2 linked regions of the Homo sapiens genome follow. The protein of the gene in region 1 purifies or fractionates together with the protein of each later gene. This does not show direct contact. Each region holds a gene or a part of one and is shown in the gene's direction. Other genes may lie near its edges.

The links. The genes of interacting proteins can lie anywhere in the genome.
Region 2: the proteins of ZNF800 (region 1) and MTA3 purify together in Homo sapiens (affinity purification with mass spectrometry; 2 studies listed by BioGRID and IntAct, with this or other methods). This does not show direct contact.

Annotation. Positions count from the first base shown.
Region 1 is NC_000007.14:127,390,578-127,394,325, reverse strand, and holds the start of ZNF800 (zinc finger protein 800), read left to right. Parts: upstream 1-1,617; 5' UTR 1,618-2,266; exon of another isoform or gene 2,267-2,517; intron 2,518-2,710; 5' UTR 2,711-2,768; coding exon 2,769-2,829; intron 2,830-3,748. UniProt on the Homo sapiens protein: May be involved in transcriptional regulation.
Region 2 is NC_000002.12:42,571,597-42,575,344, forward strand, and holds part of MTA3 (metastasis-associated protein MTA3), read left to right. Parts: intron 1-3,748. UniProt on the Homo sapiens protein: Acts as a component of the histone deacetylase NuRD complex which participates in the remodeling of chromatin.

The DNA of each region.
Region 1 (3,748 bases):
ATCATTCATAATTGCACTGTTACAGCCCACTGTTAAAATATCACATTTCAAAATACTTCTTTTTTGTTGCTTAAGCATATTCCATACAACTAAATTTTATATAAAATGTGATTTTTATTGGCTGCATAACAAACACTATCACAGAAGTATCATAACTTATTTTACATTAATTTATAAACTGTGGCATTTCATATTTTAGTTTCACGTTGGGTGATGCCTCTTAACTATGGGACAGATATATATGATCATACCACTTATGTGACTAGTTAAAGATCACGTTTCTATCCCTTTCTTGTCATCCCCTAGAATCAAGCTGCTGCAATCCCCGGAGACCTAATGCAAACGCTTCACCTCCTGGACCCAAGCCATCCCGCCCCCCGCCCCCGCCTCTCCCGTAGCTGGGACCACAGGCACGCGCCATCCTGCCCGGCTAATTTTTTTTTATTTGGTTGAGAGGGCGTTTTGCCATGTTGCCAGGCTGGTCTCTAACTCCTGGGCTTAAGCGATCCTCCCGCTTTGACCTCCCGAAGTGCTGGGATTACAAACACCAGCCACTGCGCCTGGCCCAACATTTTTAAAGTAACAAATGTATCAATTTACAAACTTTCCTTTGGATTTTGAAAACTGAACTTTTTCTCTTCTAAACAAAGTCTATCTACTGAACTTCAGTTTTTTCAGGACCCCGCACAATGGCAGCTTAAGTTGGACCAACTGGAAAGGTTTTCAGTGGATCTTGGGGAGGATCGGAGACAAGGCGAATGGGCTTTATTCTCTTAAAATTTCCTGACGGGCGGTGGACACATATTTGCTTGATGTCACCAAGAGCAAGAATTACGTTCCAGGAGCTGGGAGGAAACAACGGAGGCGGCTCTCTCGCCCCCAAGAAGCGGCCCTTGGTTGGCAGAATTTGACAGATGACTGGGATCTTCGAGGATTTTCCAAGCAGGATCGGGGCGCAGAAGAGGAGGGAAAGTGCGTGAGCCCACGTGACCCAACTCCACTTTCAAGTTTGAGAAGCGGAGCTGCCAGGATAAATACCCATCTGCTACCAATAGATGCTTTCCCTCCCTTGGGCCTGATAAAAGAATCCCCAAGTTCCGGGAGGCATGCTTCGAAAATTGTTGGCAGGAAAAAAATGTTCAACTTTTGCCATTTAGCAATGCACTGACAGCCTTTTGGGGATCATCACTACTTATGGCTCATACATCTGCCCACCGCTTCCTAAGTCCTCTCCCAACCCTCCCCGAGTTTCAGTTCCACTGAACAGAGAACAGCGAGAGCAACAGTTTGGTGGCCGAGCAGCCCGTCTCCGTGGGCGCGCACGCCGCATCGCGGGCCTCACACCTCACTTTGGGCTTCGGCTCTCGGTCGGCCCGAGACTCCGGCCGCGGCCCTGGTGTCCCCCGCCCCGGTTCCCTCCCCTCGGACACGGCCCTCGCGCCGGCGGCCCCGGTCCCCTCCCCACCGGCCGCGGCGGGCACAGCGCGTCGCCTACCCACAGGCGGGGGCGCCGGCCGGGCGCATGCGCGCGGCGCTCCCGGGCGTGCCGGCCACACTCCCCCCACCCACTCGGTGAGCTTGTCACTTCCTGCCCTCGCCCCATCTCCGTCCGGGGTCAGTCAGTCGCTCCCTGTCGCTGCCGGAGAGTCTCTGCTTCCCCCTTCCTACGCGCTCCGCGGCGGTAGCTCGGGCTCTCCGGAGGAGGGGGCGACAGAGTAAAAGAGAGGCTGACTTAATAAAGTTTCCTGAAACAACAACTACCACCGAAAAGGCCCAAGGTTGGGGGAGACCCCCATTTTTCTCCGCCCCTCTCCTAAAGCCTGAGGGACCGTTGCAGGTGGAGCGGCGCTGGTGGGACCCGGGTTGCGGCGGCAGCCGTTGCCCCGGCGAGGGAAGCCTCAGGTCCTGCCCGCTCCGGTTCCGGCTCCTTCGGTGGTGGCGGCGGCAGCTGCTGCCGGGCGGTTCCTCCTGTCAACTGCCTCCGCCCGCGCGCCTCCCGCCTAGCCACACAGCGCGGAGGACGCCGTGAGCCGCCGCCGCAGTCGTCTCGGCCCGCGGAGGGACGTGGTGAGCTGTGGCGCTTCCGCGTCAGCGCCGGCGGGGACTCTTTGGGAGCGCGTCGGGCCCGAGTCCGGGTTCCCCCGCGTGGTCAGCGGAGGCTGCGCCAGGTGGGGCCCGCAGCCGCCTCCCACGCCAGGCTGTCCCCGCGGCCGCCCGGCCTGCCTTCCTTCCTTCCGCCCGCCCGCCGGCCCGCCCTAAGAGTTGAGTAAGTTGGGCGCACTTGGTTGTGGGGACGGGGTCTCCGCCAGGGAGACCCCAACGCACGTGCGTAGCGGGAGGGCGCGGCGTGGGCCAGCAGCCGGCGGGAGCGGCACCTCCGTAGTCCCGGAGCCCGGCGGTGCCCGCCGCGCTCTGCGCTCCGTTTCCGCGCGCCCGCCCGGGACGGCGAGGCCGCAGCCGCCCGCGCTGCCGGCCAGGCCTTCGCCCTGCGCTGCGCACCCGAGGCTGCGTTTCCGGGTAGGGCGATGAACCTGTGTGGGGAGTTTGGGCTGCAGGAGGGTTTGTGCGTCTTTCTGTTTTCTTTTCGAGAGGGAGGTGCGGGTCCGTGGAGGGAAAGCGGAGAGCTGATGATGGGAACGTATCTGGAAAATGCAGCCAGTGCCCCCCAGGAAGTTCAGGGCGAGTGACGGGTTTGTGCTTCTTTCAACAGCCACGCCGCAATGAAGAGCTTCTTACAGTGAAAGCAAAGTAGGTCGAGTCCACTGAAAATGCCTTTAAGGGACAAATACTGTCAGACTGACCACCATCATCACGGATGCTGTGAACCAGGTAGACCCCTCTTCGTCCGCAGTTGCTTTGCCCTCCATCAGAGCCACTCTGCCTTCTCTTTTTTTCTAGCTTTTTTTCCTCCTGCCCCAGTAGTCATTCTTAAGCAGGCTATGATATTCCCTAGCATAAGCCAGTTATGAAGCTAAAAGCTTGTACAAACAAGAGGTCTCCCCTGCTTGATCCCTTAAAAAAAAGTACTGCAAGTGTCACCTTAAATCATTTCCACAAGATCAGTCGCTCAGTCTTTTTTCTTTCTTTTTCAAGGCATCCTGCAGTTAATATACTCCTATGGTCTGTAAATGTTTAAAATTGAAGAGAAAGGAAAACATAGAATACTAGATTTGTTGTCGTGAAATTGTTTCACTGAAACTTTAAAAATTAAAAGTTTCTTAGGCATTTTAATCAGCAAGTAGTTCTGAAAGTCTAAAAGTGAGTTTAGTTTGGGTTTTAAAAGTTTGTTGAACTCATTGGGAGAATCAGGTTTTGCTAAGCGCAACCTTTAAAAAAATATCTTGGGCAGAACATATTATATTGCGAAATAAAAGAGAAATCTCTTTTTTTATTTAGGTAGAATACATAATTATTTCCAGGGTATTTTATGGAATGAAACTTGCTTTAGTTGAATTTATCATATGAAAAAGTTTTTCGGAGTCTCATGAAGAATACTAGCAAACTTTAATTTGATAAACTTGATATACTGTTGACAGTTCTACTTAGAACTTTGATATGCTTTGTGACAATCATTAAAAGGTATAACTTAAAAGGGAATCATTGAATGCATACCATCACTAAATCAAATAAAGGCTAGGCTATTCTAGTTTAAAGGCGGATGTTTATCATTATTTTTGACCTAAAAGTTATTAGATTTTTAATACATTTGCTTGCTTTTTGTTGGAGTATTTTAACTGCACTTATGTAC
Region 2 (3,748 bases), on another chromosome or scaffold:
AATTAATATTTTCCTCTTCCAGGTTTAGAAGGAGGAAGCTAGGGAACATAATATTGAAAGGAATTGGCTGGGCGGGTGCGGTGGCTCACGCCTGTAATCCCAGCACTTTGGGAGGTCGAGGCGGGCGGATCACCTGAGGTTGGGAGTTTGAGACCAGCCTGACCAACATGGAGAAACCCCATCTCTACTAAAAATACAAAATTAGCTGAGTGTGTTGGTGCATGCCTGTAATCCCAGCCACTTGGGAGGCTGAGGCAGGAGAATTGCTTGAACCTGGGAGGCATAGGTGGCAGTGAGCCAAGATCACGCCATTGCACTCCAGCCTGGGCAACAAGAGTGAAACTCCGTCTCAAAAAAAAAAAAAAATTGAAGGGAATTTGTAAAATTCTGGACTAGGCTGGCTGGGCACGGTGGCTCACGCCTGTAATCCTAGCACTTTGGGAGGCCAAGGCAGGCGGATCACGGGGTCAGGAGATCGAGACCATCCTGGCTAACATAGTGAAACCCCGTCTCTACTAAAAATACAAAAAAAATTAGCCGGGCATGGTGGTGTGCACCTGTAGTCTCAGCTACTTGGGAGGCTGGGGCAGGAGAATGGGGTGAACCTGGGGGGTGGAGCTTGCAGTGAGCCGAGATCGCGCCACTGCCCTCCAGCCTGGGTGACAGAGTGAGACTGTCTCAAAAAAAAAATTCTGGACTAGGCTAAATTGTCTGTGGTAGCTCACACCTGTAATCCTAACATTTTGGGAAGCTGAGGCCTCAGGATCCTTTGAGTCCAGGAGTTCCAGACTAGCCTGGGTAACATAGGGAAACCCTGCCTCTACCAAAAAAAAATAGCCGGGCATGATGGCACATGCCTGTAGTCCCAGTTACTTGGGAGGCTGAGGAAGATTGCTTGGGCCCAGGAGGTCAAGGCTGCCGTGAGCTGTGATTGCATCACTGCACTCCAGCCTGGGTAACACAGACTGTCTCGAAATTAAAAAAAAAAATTATGGTTTTGGTGTAATAAATATAAAGTAGCTTTGTACCTTTGGCCCAATTAAAATTTTCACATTAAGATTTGTCCGAGATGGTCGTTTATTAGGACAAAAGAAGCCTTATGATTGCAGGAGAAGAAACTTTTGTTTTGTTTTGTTTTTTGTTTTTTGAGATGAAGTTTTCACTCTTGTTGCCCAGACTGGAGTGCAATGGCGCAATCTTGGCTCACTGCAACCTCTTCCTCCCAGGTTCAAGCGATTCTACTGTCTCATCCTCCCAAGTAGCTGGGATTACAGGCATGCGCCACCATGCCTGGCTGTTTTTTGTGTGTTTATTAGAGACAGAGTTTCACCATGTTGGTTGGGCTGGCCTTGAACTCCTGACCTCAGGTGATCCACCCGCCCCAGCCTCCCAAAGTGCTGGGATTACAGGTGTGGGCCACTGCGCCTGGCCAGGATTTATAATGGAGGTACCAGAAAGCAGTCAAGCTGCATGGACCATGGATTTTCTAATGATGTTTTGTTTTCCTCCGATTTTCTAATGATGCTTTGTTTTCCTCCAGACTTCTCTGAGGGTTGTGTGGTTTATGAGACTTCATAGTGTTAAAATCTTTGAGTCTGTCTAGCTAATACCTTTCCCTCAAAATGCCATCTGGTAACTTGTTCAGTTTTGTCTTGAGAAGGCAAGCCTGACCTAGGACATTCTTAGTTTGAAGAGCCTTGAGACCTTGGTTTGTTTTGGGAATATCCCAGGGAATTTGCATTATTTTTATTTTATTCCAGAGACAGGGAGACAGGGTCTCACTCTGTCACCCAGGCTGGAGTTCATTGGTATGATGATAGCTCACTGTAACCTTGAACTCCTGGACTCAAAGCAGTCCTCCTGCCTCAGCTTTCCAAGTAGCTGAGACTACAGGCATGTACCACCATACCTGGCTAATTTTTTGTTGTTGTTGCTATGGATTCTTGCTCTGTTGCCCAGGCTGGAGTACAATGGCATGATCTCCGGTCACTGCAACCTCTGTCTCCTGGGTTCAAGCAATTCTTCTGCCTCAGCCTCCCGAATAGCTGGGATTACAGGCGCCCAACACCATGCCTGGCTAATTTTTGTATTTTTAGTAGAGACAGGGTTTCACCATGTTGGCCAGGCTGGTCTCAAACTCCTGACCTCAGGTGATCCACCCGCCTTGGCCTCCCAAAGTGCTGAGATTACAGGCGTGAGCCACTGCCCCAGCATTTTCTTTCTTTCTTTCTTTCTTTTTTGAGATGGAGTCTCGCTCCGTCGACCAGGCTAGAGTGCAGTGGCGCAATCTCAGCTCACTGCAAGCTCCGCCTCCTGGGTTCACACCATTCTCCTGCCTCAGCCTCCCGAGTAGCTGGGACTACAGGAGCCTGCCACTACGCCTGGCTATTTATTTATTTATTTATTTATTTATTATTTATTAGTAGAGATGGGGTTTCACCGTGTTAGCCAGGATGGTCTCGATCTCCTGACCTTGTGATCCGCCTGCCTCGGCCTCCCAAAGTGCTAGGATTACAGGTGTGAGCCACCGCGCCCGGCTTTTTTTTTTTTTTTCTGAGGCGGAGTTTTGCTGTTCTTGCCCAGGCTGGAGTACAATGGTGCAACCTCCTCTCACCACAACCTCTGCCTCCTGGGTTCAAGCGATTCTCCTGCCTCAGCCTCCTGAGCAGCTGGGATTATAGGCATGCACCACCATGCCCGGCTAATTTTTAGCAGAGATGGGGTTTCTCCATGTTGGTCAGGCTGGTCTCGAACTCCCGACCTCAGGTGATCTACCACCTCGGCCTCCCAAAGTGCTGGGATTACAGGCGTGAGCCACCATGCCCGGCCTCCTTTTCTCAAAATAACTGTGCTACTGCATTTGCCTATGTTAGTTGTCACCCAGGCTGGAGTGCAGTAGCATAGATCCTGGCTCACTGCAACCTCCTCCTCCCAGGTTCAAGTGATTCTCCTCCCTCAGCCTCCCAATTAGCTGGGATTACAGGCACCTGCCACCACACCCAGCTAATTTTTTTGTATTTTTAGTGAAGACAGGGTTTCACCATGTTGGCCAGGCTGGTCATCAAGTGATCCACCCGCCTTGGCCTCCCAAAGTGCTGGGATTACAGGCGTGAACCACTGCACCCCGCCTAATGTTTAAATTTTTTGTAGACGTGGTCTTACTGTGTTGCCCAGGCTGATCTAGAACTCCTGGCCTCAAGCAGTCCCCCATCTTGGTCTCTCAAAGCACTGGGATTACAGGCTGACTGCCTTTGCATTAAAAAAAAATTATTTAGTCTTTGAGACCACCAAGTGAAGAGAATGGCCTCAAGTGTAGATCAGTCCGTGGATGGGAACTGTTGGCATGTGATTCTGATCTTTTATGTTATTGATGTAAGGTATAAGAATTGAGGCAACTCTAAACTATTTACCATATCAGTTTAATTAGAAAGTTAATTACATCGAAATAGAAATCTTGACCTATGAGACCCTATATTCTTTGGCTGTCACTGCCCCTCTCTGACCTCCACTTTCGCTGAAAGCAGGTGGGAGCTCTGCCTTGCTTACTTGGCACAAAGCACAATGGGCTTTTGGCTGTTTCTCCCTGCAACCACCTTAGGAGGACCGTTTATTTGTGTCCGTCCTACCCCTCACCCCTTGCTCTTTTTTCCATATCATTTATCACCTCCAAATATACTTACTGTGTTTATTTTCATTACCTGTCTTCCTAGAGTGTCAGCTGCAGTGATCTTTTCTGTTTTGTCCAGTT